2 linked regions of the Homo sapiens genome follow. The protein of the gene in region 1 purifies or fractionates together with the protein of each later gene. This does not show direct contact. Each region holds a gene or a part of one and is shown on either strand. Other genes may lie near its edges.

Region 1 (7,107 bases):
TGATGTTAGAATGTGGAACCATTTTTAGTGTCAACATATTAGATGACAATTTTTCACAGTGAAAAAACCTATTATAGGGATCTTCAACTGGAGGCTCATTCTGTATATATACTCACTACATGTTGTAATTTATTTTCAATACTGTATTAAGATAACATTTTTGTAATAATGTAATTATTACAAAGTTAGTCTTTCTACATTTTTTTTTTTGAGACGGGATCTTGCTCTGTTGCCCAGGCTGGAGTGCAATGGTGTGATCACAGCTCACTGCAACCTCTGCCTCCCTGATCCTCCCACCTCAATCTCCCAAGTAGCTGGGTCTACAGGTATGTGACACCAGACTCTGTTAATTTTTGTATTTTCTAGAGAGATAGGGTCTCACTATGTTGCCTAGACTGGTTTCAAAATCCCGGGCTCAAGTGATCCACCTGTCTTGGCCTCCCAAAATGCTGGGATTACTGGCACAAACACCGCACCCGACCCTCTGCAGCTACTTACTCCTCCTAAGCATCAGCCCTCTCATCTCTGAAATATGGCTCTTCCTGCCTACCTCAAATATTGGCTGTAAGGATGAAAATAAACAATGAAGATAAGGGTTTTGCAGAGCTTCTGGTCCATAACAAGTACTTAATACTTCTTTTGGACATATATTTAATAAGTGCCTACGTGTACCATATGCTGATCTAGGTGTTGGAAATTCCTAATAGAAGAAACTCCTTTTTCTCATGGAGCTTACAATGTTGATGCCAGTGGCAAACGAGTTGACCCATTGTTACGTGGAAACAAATGGTATGAAAAGAACCTGGGGTAAGCAGATGGAAGAAGGGAGGAAGTGTTTGCGTGCACAAAGGCGCCATTTTACATAGGGTGTTAAGGGACACCTTCTAAAGATAAATAGGGGCAGGGGTCGCCGATGTATGGGGAAAAGCTTTCCGAGGAGAGCAAACACCAAGGGCAGAGTCCTGGGGAGGGTAAGCATGCTTGGAATATTTAAGGATCCAGACGGATTCCACGGGGGTGCAGCCAAGTGGGCTGTGGGAGGAGAAGGACATAAGGTCAGTGATGCACCAGGGGCACACCTGTCGTCTTGCAGGACTTGGTAAGCTCTTCGGATTTTTTCTTTCTTTCCTTTTTTTTTTTTTTTTTTTTGAGATAAGAAACCATTGAGGGACTGTCAGGAAATGAGGTGATCTACATAGATTTGAAAAGGTAACCTGCCAGGCACGTGGCTCACGCCTGTAATCCCAGCACTTTGGGAGGTTGAGGGGGGCGGATCACCTGAGGTCGGGAGTTCGAGACCAGCCTGACCAACATGGAGAAACCCCCGTCTCTACTAAAAATACAAAATTAGCTAGGCGTGGTGGCGCATGCCTGTAATCCCAGCTGCTCGGGAGGCTGGGGCAGGAGAATCACTTGAACCGGGGAGGCAGAGGTTGCAGTGAGCCGAGATCGCGCCATTGCACTCCAGCCTGGGTGACAAGAGCGAAATTCTGTTTCAAAAAAAAGAAAATTAACACACAGTAGCTATTATCAAATGCTGTAACCGTAAGTGATTTAATACATAGGAAATGAAAATTGCCTATCATTGTTCTTTAATCTGGTTTAAGTGGTTGAGCCTTATGACACTGCCATTTCTATGGGTCAAAAATGGTGGAATATTGTCATAAAATTCAACCTGATTTAAAGGATAGGGCAAGGAAAAAAAGCAAAAAAAAAAAAAAAAGCTTTAGAATAAAATATAATTGGATTATAATCCCAGACACAGGACTCACTAGCTATATTCTTGGGCAAGTTACTTAACTTCATCTTTCTTGGGTTTCCCCTTATTTGTAAAATGGGGATAACAGTCTAACCTAAGCCCAAGTTGTACTGATGATTAAACGAGATATGCATGTAGGGCATTCAGCATAGTGCCTAGGAGCTTAATAAATAAGCAGGCCATTAAGAAGGGGATTGCATCTTTTACACTAGCAGCATCAAAACCTTGATTTTGATTTTTCTAGGTACTGAAACAGCCTTCATTACTTAGAGACCATAGCTTTTTTGCAAGTTACTATTCCCTGCATTTAGAAAGTTCATCTTTAAACAGGCAATTCAGTAAGTAAATATTCTATGGCTCTAAAACAGATACGGCTGTTGGAGACTTTAAAACATCTGACAGTTACATTTTTAATGTTGTCTACCAAGGCTATTACATTTCCTCTGTCAAAGTAACTTAATTTTAAAAACGAACTCTGTGCTTGTTAAACGAAAAGGCCAGAAGGCTACTGGCTACTCAGCGTTCATTTGAAATTCTTATAGTGCCTTCAGTACAATTCAAACTTAGAGGTGATTCTCACAATTCATGTGAAGCAACATTTTACAAAAAAAATCACCTACGTTCACTGTTAAGTCAGAAGACAGAATGATTAACAAAATCTCAGCCGCGAATTACTCTCACGATGGCCAACTGGATATTAAATAACTCTGCATTATTTTAATGGAATGTTATAAAGGATTTGCAACAAAATGCAGACGTAGATTTAGGGACTGCCGACTTCTATAGATCAAGGACTTCATTGGTGCAGCTGAGGAAATTCTTCCAAACAAGTCTAAATGTTGGAAATCCACCAAACTGCAGAGAAAGACCTCTTGCCTCCGTATTCTTTCTTCATCTGTAAAAATGTTGACTTCTGCTTTTCAGACTACGCGCACAGCCTCTTTATTTCCTACTGCGGCTTCATTCCCTCACGGAACACTGACGCCATCGCGAAGGAAGCATTTCGAGCACGACTGACGCTCCCCTTATTATTTGCTAAGCCGCTGCGCTCGGGTCTGGCTACGATTTGCTTTCAGAATAACGGGAAGGTGCAACAAGATCGCTTCCCTAGAGGCGCGTCGCCCGCGTGGCCCGGACCCCCCACGCCCGCCCGCCGCCCCGTGGGTGCGCACGCGTGTCCGCGCAGGCTTCCCGCCTGGCGAGTGCAAGGCTCCTCTCCGCCGTGCTGCTTTCCAGCCTCTCAGCAAATCACGAACACCGAAAGAAGCCACGGCGGCGACGGGAGGGGCGTCGCGCGTGCTTCCCTCGGCGACAAAGCGGGAGCCGGGCGCGCCGGCCGAGGGCGCCCGGCGCAGAGTCCCGCAGAGGCGGACGCCGCGGCACGCGCCTCGAAAAGCCTCAAACTCTTATCCTCGGCTCTCCCGCCCCACCTCCGCCCCGCAGCCAAGACCCGCGCCGTGGCGGGCCCGACGGCCAAGGAAAGCCCACCAGCCCTCCGCACCGTGGGCGACGGGCCAAGACCCGGCCCTAAACGGCCAGACCCAGCCCCTAGTCGGCTGCCGCCCCCGCCCCACGCAGGCGCGCTCCGGGGCCCTCCCCTCCCCCACCGCGCGCTCGCGGGGCCCGACGGGGGCGGAGCGACCCTCGGAAGGGGCGTGGCGACCGGGCTCGACGCGCGCACGCGCTCTGGAGCCCCACGGCTACGTGTCGGGCCACGTGATGCCCACCCCGAAAGTCCCCCGTGAAGCAACAGGACGTTAAAAAAAAATTTCTCTTCTGCGGGGTGGATAAGAGGTTCTGAAAAAACTATAGTAACGGGAGGCGAGGCGGAGGCAGCGCTGGCGCGTCCCGCTGGAATTCCTCTCGCCTGCCGCGCCAGCCCCGACCGCGCCCGCAGCCCCACCCGCCCCGTGCCGTGGAAAGCCCCGCGCCCCCCCCGCGGCCGTCGGCCCCGCAGCCCACACCCACCCGCCCCGGGCGCCCCGCACGGCGGCGACCCAGTCCTTGCGCCCAGGCCCGCCGAGCGCCGCAGTCCGTCACACTCCCGTTGCCCCCGTCGCCCGCCCCGCCGGGGAGGCAGGGAGGAGGGGGCGCGGCGCCGGCGGCTGCCCCGGTCGCGGGGCGGCGGGCAGCAGGCAGCGGGAGCGCGCCGGCCGGGACCCGCTAACGGCCGCCCTGCGCGGCCCCGCCCGCCGCCCGCCCCCGGCCCTCCCCGCGCCGCTGCCCCTCCCCCCGCCGCCGCCGCTGCTGCCGCCGCCGCTGGCAGCGCCGCCTGAACTGAGGCGAACTCCGCCGCCAAGTGAGTGAGGAGGAGGAGGAGGAGAAGGAGGAGGAGGAAGAGGAGGAGCGCAGTCGGAGCGCGGCGGCAGCGGCAGAGGCGCCGCGGCGGGGACCAGCCCAGAGAGACCCCCCGAGCCCGCGGCACAGGCGGCGGCGGCGCTGAGCGGGCTCGACCAGCCGAGCGAGCGGCGGCCCCGGCTCCTCCTCGTCCGGCGCCAGCAGCCCGCGCCCCGCGCCCGCACTCGGCCAGCCGAGACCCGCCTCCCGCCCGCCCGCCGGCCTCGTGAGGGACGCGCCGAGCCGGGCGGCCGAGAGCGGCGGCGGCTGGGAGCGCGTCGGGCCCGGGCGGAAAGTGCCTGCGGGGGGCGGGCGAGCGCGCGGTGCCGGCCGCCCCGGGGCTCGGCGCGGGAGCCAGAGCGGGAGCCGGCGCGGAGCGGGACGCCGGGTCCCGAGCGGCCCGCGGCCGGGGCTCGCCCCCGCCCCTCCCTCCTCTCCGGCGGCGGCGGCGGCGGCGGCGGGCGGAGTGAGCTGCGGAGCCTGGAATATGGTCGGGGAAATGGAAACGAAGGAGAAGCCGAAGCCCACCCCAGATTACCTGATGCAGCTGATGAACGACAAGAAGCTCATGAGCAGCCTGCCCAACTTCTGCGGGATCTTCAACCACCTCGAGCGGCTGCTGGACGAAGGTGAGCGTCTCCAGGGCCCCGGCCCCGGCCCGACCCCCGCCGGGGCGGCCCCTTTCCCCGCTTGGGATGGTGGGGAGGGCGGGAAGGTCACGGCCGGGCGGGACCGAGCGCCGGGGGGACTGGGAGGCCAGGAGGGCGCACAAAGGAGGTGCCGGGCCGGGCTTGCGGCGGGCGGGCGGGCCGGGGTGGACCCGCCGGTGCCGGACGCCCCCTGCCCGGCCGGGACCCCGCGCCGCTGGCGTCCAAGTTGGCGCGTTGCGGAGGGCTGCGGGGTGAGCCCTGCGGCCCCTCTAGCTTCGGCGGTCACATTTCCGAGAGGTCGGCGGGGGCTGCGCGGACTCGGTGGTCCTCGCCGAGCCCTCCCGAGAGCAGGCCCACGCCGCGCCGCCGGCCTGGAGGACGCGTGTGCCCGGCGCGGGCCCCGCTCCTCCGCTCGGCCTCCCGAGCCTGCTCTGCGCGGACCCCCACCGCCCCGCGTTCGGGAGCTCTCCCCTCCCGTGAGGACTAAAGCGGGGTTTCGTGGTTGGGGAGTTGGTGCAGCTGTTCAATACTAAGTGGAAGTCAGTGTGGGGCTCGTTAGTTTAAAGAAATTCCGTAGGAGACCGAAATTATGCTGGCGTAGCCGACAAGGAGGACTAAGTGACGGCGAAAAGCACTTTTTTCCCTTTTGTTTGGGGAAGCGAGAACTGTTAGGGAGTTGAACTTCACTTTTCGGGGGTGGGGGGGGGGGGGGTGGAGTGCGAAATAACGCGATGACAGATCGGAGCGCAGCCTGAGTTAGAAGAACTTGGGCGGAGGGTTTGCTCCCGGGGACGCAGCCGCCTGAGTTTGTAGGACAGGGTTTCGAGACGTTTGGAAAGGGCGAAATAAAATTGAGCCAAAGTTTCCAAAAAGCTGTATGGAGCGCTGTGGGGAGTGAAGAATGACAAGAAGATTAATGTTGACCAACTTTGGAATTTCCTTAAGAAGTTCTCATAGCAGTACCTGAAGTATTAATTTCTAGTAGCTGTGGGTTTCTGTGGACGCCTAGAGAAAAAAAAGACCACAAAAAAAGTCTGTTTCGAAAATCGACTGGCCAGGAGTTTGTTTGTTTTTTTTTCCTGCTTAGAGGCACCACCGGAGGACTGTGTAAAGGAAACTGAAAACTACAGGTTGAAGAGATGAACAATGGAGTTTAGATTTTTCGCAAGAATTTCGAGATTTTAAAAATAGAGTCGGGGAACAGGAGTTTGAAGCTTGGGGAGTTGGAATGTCACTAGAGAACAAAAGGCCGGAAATGTTTCCATGATAAAAAATGGTTAAAGAAAAATCCCAGGAGTTCTGTTGTCTTGAAAGTCATAGAAACAACTTAAAAGTAGAAAATGGTTAGGTGTTACGGCTTTCTCGTCGTTTTGCTTCCGTATGTTAAACATACAGCACTCACCAACGTTGAAATGGGCATTTTCCGCTGTTGGAACAGCAAATCTGTTAATTTCAAGTTGCTCCAGAGAAAACCTGAGCTGTCCCTTTAAGGGGTTCTGCTTTTCCTATTTGTGTTGGCATTTGAAAGATTGTGGAGGCAGAAAACTTTCTGGAATGTCAAAAAAAAAAAAAAAATGCTGGAACTCTTAAATTGAGTATTTCCAAATGTGAGCGCTAAGGGGCGCCAGTTATTTTTTAACCATGGAAATGGTTGGAACAAAATGTGTAACATACTCAATCTGACTGACCTATATTAAATTTAGTTGAAACTTAAGTTATAGATTATTTGATTTGTCATAATGTGTTTATATAGTGTTTTCGAACATTGAAAATACTTTCCTTAAAATTATTGGCACAACTTTATGACGTTTCAAAATAACACTCTTACTGTCTTCTCCTTGGCATATTTTGGTTAAGTTAAAGTTTTAGTAGTATTAGTAACAATTTCTGGTGAAAGTTTGTTTTCTTGAGTGCAGTTGTTTAGAAGGAATCCTTTATCGACGATAAAATGAAAATAGGCCTTGGCAATATTTAGGGTTAATTAAAATTAAATTGCATTCCTGAAATGTCGAATTCAAAGACTATAGGAGATTCCAAAAAAAAGTTTGAAAATACTTTCACCTTATGTATACTATTTAAAAAGCTGCATACTTTTGCGTTCTTTAGTTTTAAAAGGCTTCTTGTGCTTTTATGTTGATCTAAAATCTCTAAATTTAGAGCTGATTCCTTGTTATCAAGTTTCCAACCTTAGGCTTTAATAATTTTTAATCTTTCAAATCCAGAAATTTCAATTATGTCATTGTCTCTGACAAAGGCTTATTTCTCTCTGGTTGGAAATAGTACTCGTTTGCGTTTTAAATGTAAGAGACCACTATGATATCTCCTAGATAATGTTTGTTTCCCCTTCCCCTTTTAATGTGG
Region 2 (3,144 bases), on another chromosome or scaffold:
CTTGGCATAGTTTTTTCCCCTAGAATATAGTACTCCCTTTTACTCTAAAAAATATCCCAGTTTGGACAATAAAATACATAATTACTCTAGTTATATTATTTGCTTTACTTCTAAAAATGTAAGAAATTGAATTTTTTTAAAGAAAAATGTTGGTTCCTGCCTTGATCTAAGTCTCATCCAAAGGAAATAAATAGTCACTAGTTTTTTATCTTACAACTCAGGACATTTGTCTTTGGTTATTAATGGAAATTAGTATGTGATTACTTTCATAGTTATGCCACAAATCACATTGAAGAAGGAATCATTCCGACCTCTGTTCCAGGACAAGAGCTAGAACAATCCATTTCTTGTCCTTTGATTTGAGAGTCACAGTCAGGGTGGCTTCTGCCACCCTTAGTAACTCAGAGCAGAGGCCAGCCCCCTCCTTCCCTCACTTTCTTTTGCTGAGTCCTTTGCCCACCTGTCAAGGTGGCAGGCACTGTGCTGGGTACAGGAGGACAGTCAGACATGTCCCTTCTTAGCTATAGTCGAGCTGTCTGGGAAACAGGATGAAAAACAGGAGGGTTATTTTCTTGTGCCCTCTTTGTCAGCTGATCCCCTCTTCTGCTACCAGCTATTTGGCCAGCAAGCCGTTTTTAGTCCCCACTTTGCCCATTTTTCTGTTTTGGTTCATCGTTTCTTAAAAGCCATGTTATAAAACATGGTAGTTTGAATCCTGTTGCTAATTTTAAACTTTCCTCTAAAATGTACTGAATTTTGACAAAAATTTGAAAATATCCTCAGCTAACTAGAATAAAAAGGATCATAAAACAATGATTTTAAAACTGAAATCTCTAGAAACTCAACATCCAAGTCAGCCGCATTTCTTCATTCAGAGTGTGTGTGTCACACCTGCCAAGGTGCTGCGTACTCTGCTAACCGAGCTAGAGTAGTGAGCAAAGCCATTTTCTCTGATCACAAGATTTTACATTTTTCTGGGATTTTGACCTGCAAAGTAGTCTCGTAAGAGCATTTGAGAGACTTACTTGGAACTGCCTTCAGAATCTATAGAGCCTTTTTTCTCTTTTTCCTCTAAAATGAAAAGAGCTTCATTTTATGATTATAACAAAAGTGACACTGTAAGCAGTTAGAACATTAAGAAGTATAAATAAAAAGTAAAAATCATCTACAACCCTACCATACTCAGAAGGAGAAAAGAACTGTCATGTATGTATACACACATACCTATGTAATTTTAATATAAATAGAATTATGTTCTACATGCTGTTTTATTTCCTCAACAGTAAATTATGGACATGTCTGAAATGTGAAATAAATTTCAAAATAAGGCTTCAGAAAGTGTAGTAAGTAATCTCTGCATTATTAAAAATAAGCAGGGTAGGGCTGGTACTTGGCTCGCTTAGCATTTGAATGTCCAACTTGGTGTTATCACTGTATCTTCCCTCCATTTGTCTTTGTGATTAGCATGTAAAATGGTATTCATAAAGATCACAACCCTTGAATATCAGATGAAGAGAAAACTTGACTCCAACATCTTACCACAACTCTGGTTTCTTCCTGCAGAATTCATTTTCAGAGGAAAATGATGAATCATCCCTGTCTGTGAACCACTGTGCTTTCCTTGAGGGTGGCATTGTAGGTTGACACCAGCAAAGACTCAGAGTGACTTGAGCATTGGAGATCCTTCTACTTGGCTGCTGTATTCATGCATTATGTTGGTTTGAGAATAGCTAGTGTATTGATCCAAGTAGTCAAAGTGTCTTAAAAGGACACCTATTTGTCCTTTTGAGCCCCAGCTGAGTGAATACTGATAGTGGACTAGAAAAGCATAGTCAAGAAAAGTGACCCACCTTGTTACTTGACCAGCAGTCTAGCTGAGAGATCTGATTTTATGTTCGTAACTTTCTGTAAAGAAAGACACAAGGACTTTTCAAAGACAGTTTATATCTTTCCAAGGCAGGAAGCTTTGCATTTGCAATCTTAGTGTTGTGTCCCTTTCTGATTTTCAAATACATCACACCTGCCTTCCTGTTTTGGGAGCAAAGATGTAATTTCAATTCCCCTTGCTACCGTCCTTATTTAAATTATTTCCATTCTAAGAGATTTTTGTTATTTTTTTAAATGTAATCTGAGCACTTTTTTGTATTCTAAAAGATAGATGATATCAGATAAATATGTTGTACATTTGATTAAAATTATTTAGATAAATATTACTATGTTGACTTTTAAATAGCTTTATCCTATTTTTCATTCATTTTGCAAATATTTGTTGTGTGTAGTTTCTTAACGTGTCAGAATCTATTATGTAAAAGAACCTTTCCAGATTTCTGAACAGTATATGCTTTGATTTTATAGGCTTTATATTATTTCAGTATGAATAAAGATAAGGAATATGAAACAGTTAACTAAAATGTATCTGTCGTTGCTAACTTGAAAAATGAAGTAGAAACAGTTGGAAAATGTTTGAATTAGAAGTTATTCAAGTGCACACTCTTTTCTAAAAGAAAGCCAATGACTATAAGGCAAAAGAAGTTTGACTGCATGTGGTATTTTTTGCTCTTGTATATGCTTTTTGAACAAGCTATTTGATAAAGCCTGAATGGAAAAAATAAAGCTGTTTCTATCTGCAGTGGCTCTTGGTGGTCATTACTTAAAAGACATATGTTTTCATCTTTAAATTCCTGAACACATTTCACCTGCTGTGAATATGTAGAAAACAGAGGTAAAACATTGGCTATATGAGTCATAAAATTTAATTTTCACTAAATGGAGTTCCAGACCATGTGGTTATCTAAATCAAAGTACGGTGGATTCCTTTCTCAGAGAGTAAAGTAAATCCCATTTTAAGCCAGAAGTCTGGATTTTCACAAGATAAATTAGGGAATAGACTTTTATAACCCAAAGGGATTCAAAATAGGACTTTATCAAATTCAAATATAATTTATCTTAGAACGTTTACAGAGAAATTTTAAAAAATATAAAGTGTGCTTTAATTGTTCATAATAGTCTGTGGTATATTTATGCAATACATTTACTAGTGTTTTATCTCTTTACAGTAAAGAGGGTCCTGGTAGGTTGGTGATAAAATGAATCCTATTTCCAAGTGATTTAAATATTAGTTACAATTCCCACTGTCATTTTTTT

The links. Proteins that work in one complex are often made in the same cells at the same time.
Region 2: the proteins of QKI (region 1) and ATE1 purify together in Homo sapiens (affinity purification with mass spectrometry; 2 studies listed by BioGRID and IntAct, with this or other methods). This does not show direct contact.

The regions. Positions count from the first base shown.
Region 1 is NC_000006.12:163,410,611-163,417,717, forward strand, and holds the start of QKI (KH domain-containing RNA-binding protein QKI), read left to right. Parts: upstream 1-4,107; 5' UTR 4,108-4,354; coding exon of another isoform or gene 4,355-4,566; 5' UTR 4,567-4,583; coding exon 4,584-4,725; intron 4,726-7,107. Other genes in the region: basic proline-rich protein-like, read left to right, coding at 2,596-3,475, 3,639-4,058, 4,355-4,566. UniProt on the Homo sapiens protein: RNA reader protein, which recognizes and binds specific RNAs, thereby regulating RNA metabolic processes, such as pre-mRNA splicing, circular RNA (circRNA) formation, mRNA export, mRNA stability and/or translation.
Region 2 is NC_000010.11:121,739,909-121,743,052, reverse strand, and holds the end of ATE1 (arginyl-tRNA--protein transferase 1), read left to right. Parts: 3' UTR 1-2,629; downstream 2,630-3,144. UniProt on the Homo sapiens protein: Involved in the post-translational conjugation of arginine to the N-terminal aspartate or glutamate of a protein. This arginylation is required for degradation of the protein via the ubiquitin pathway. Does not arginylate cysteine residues.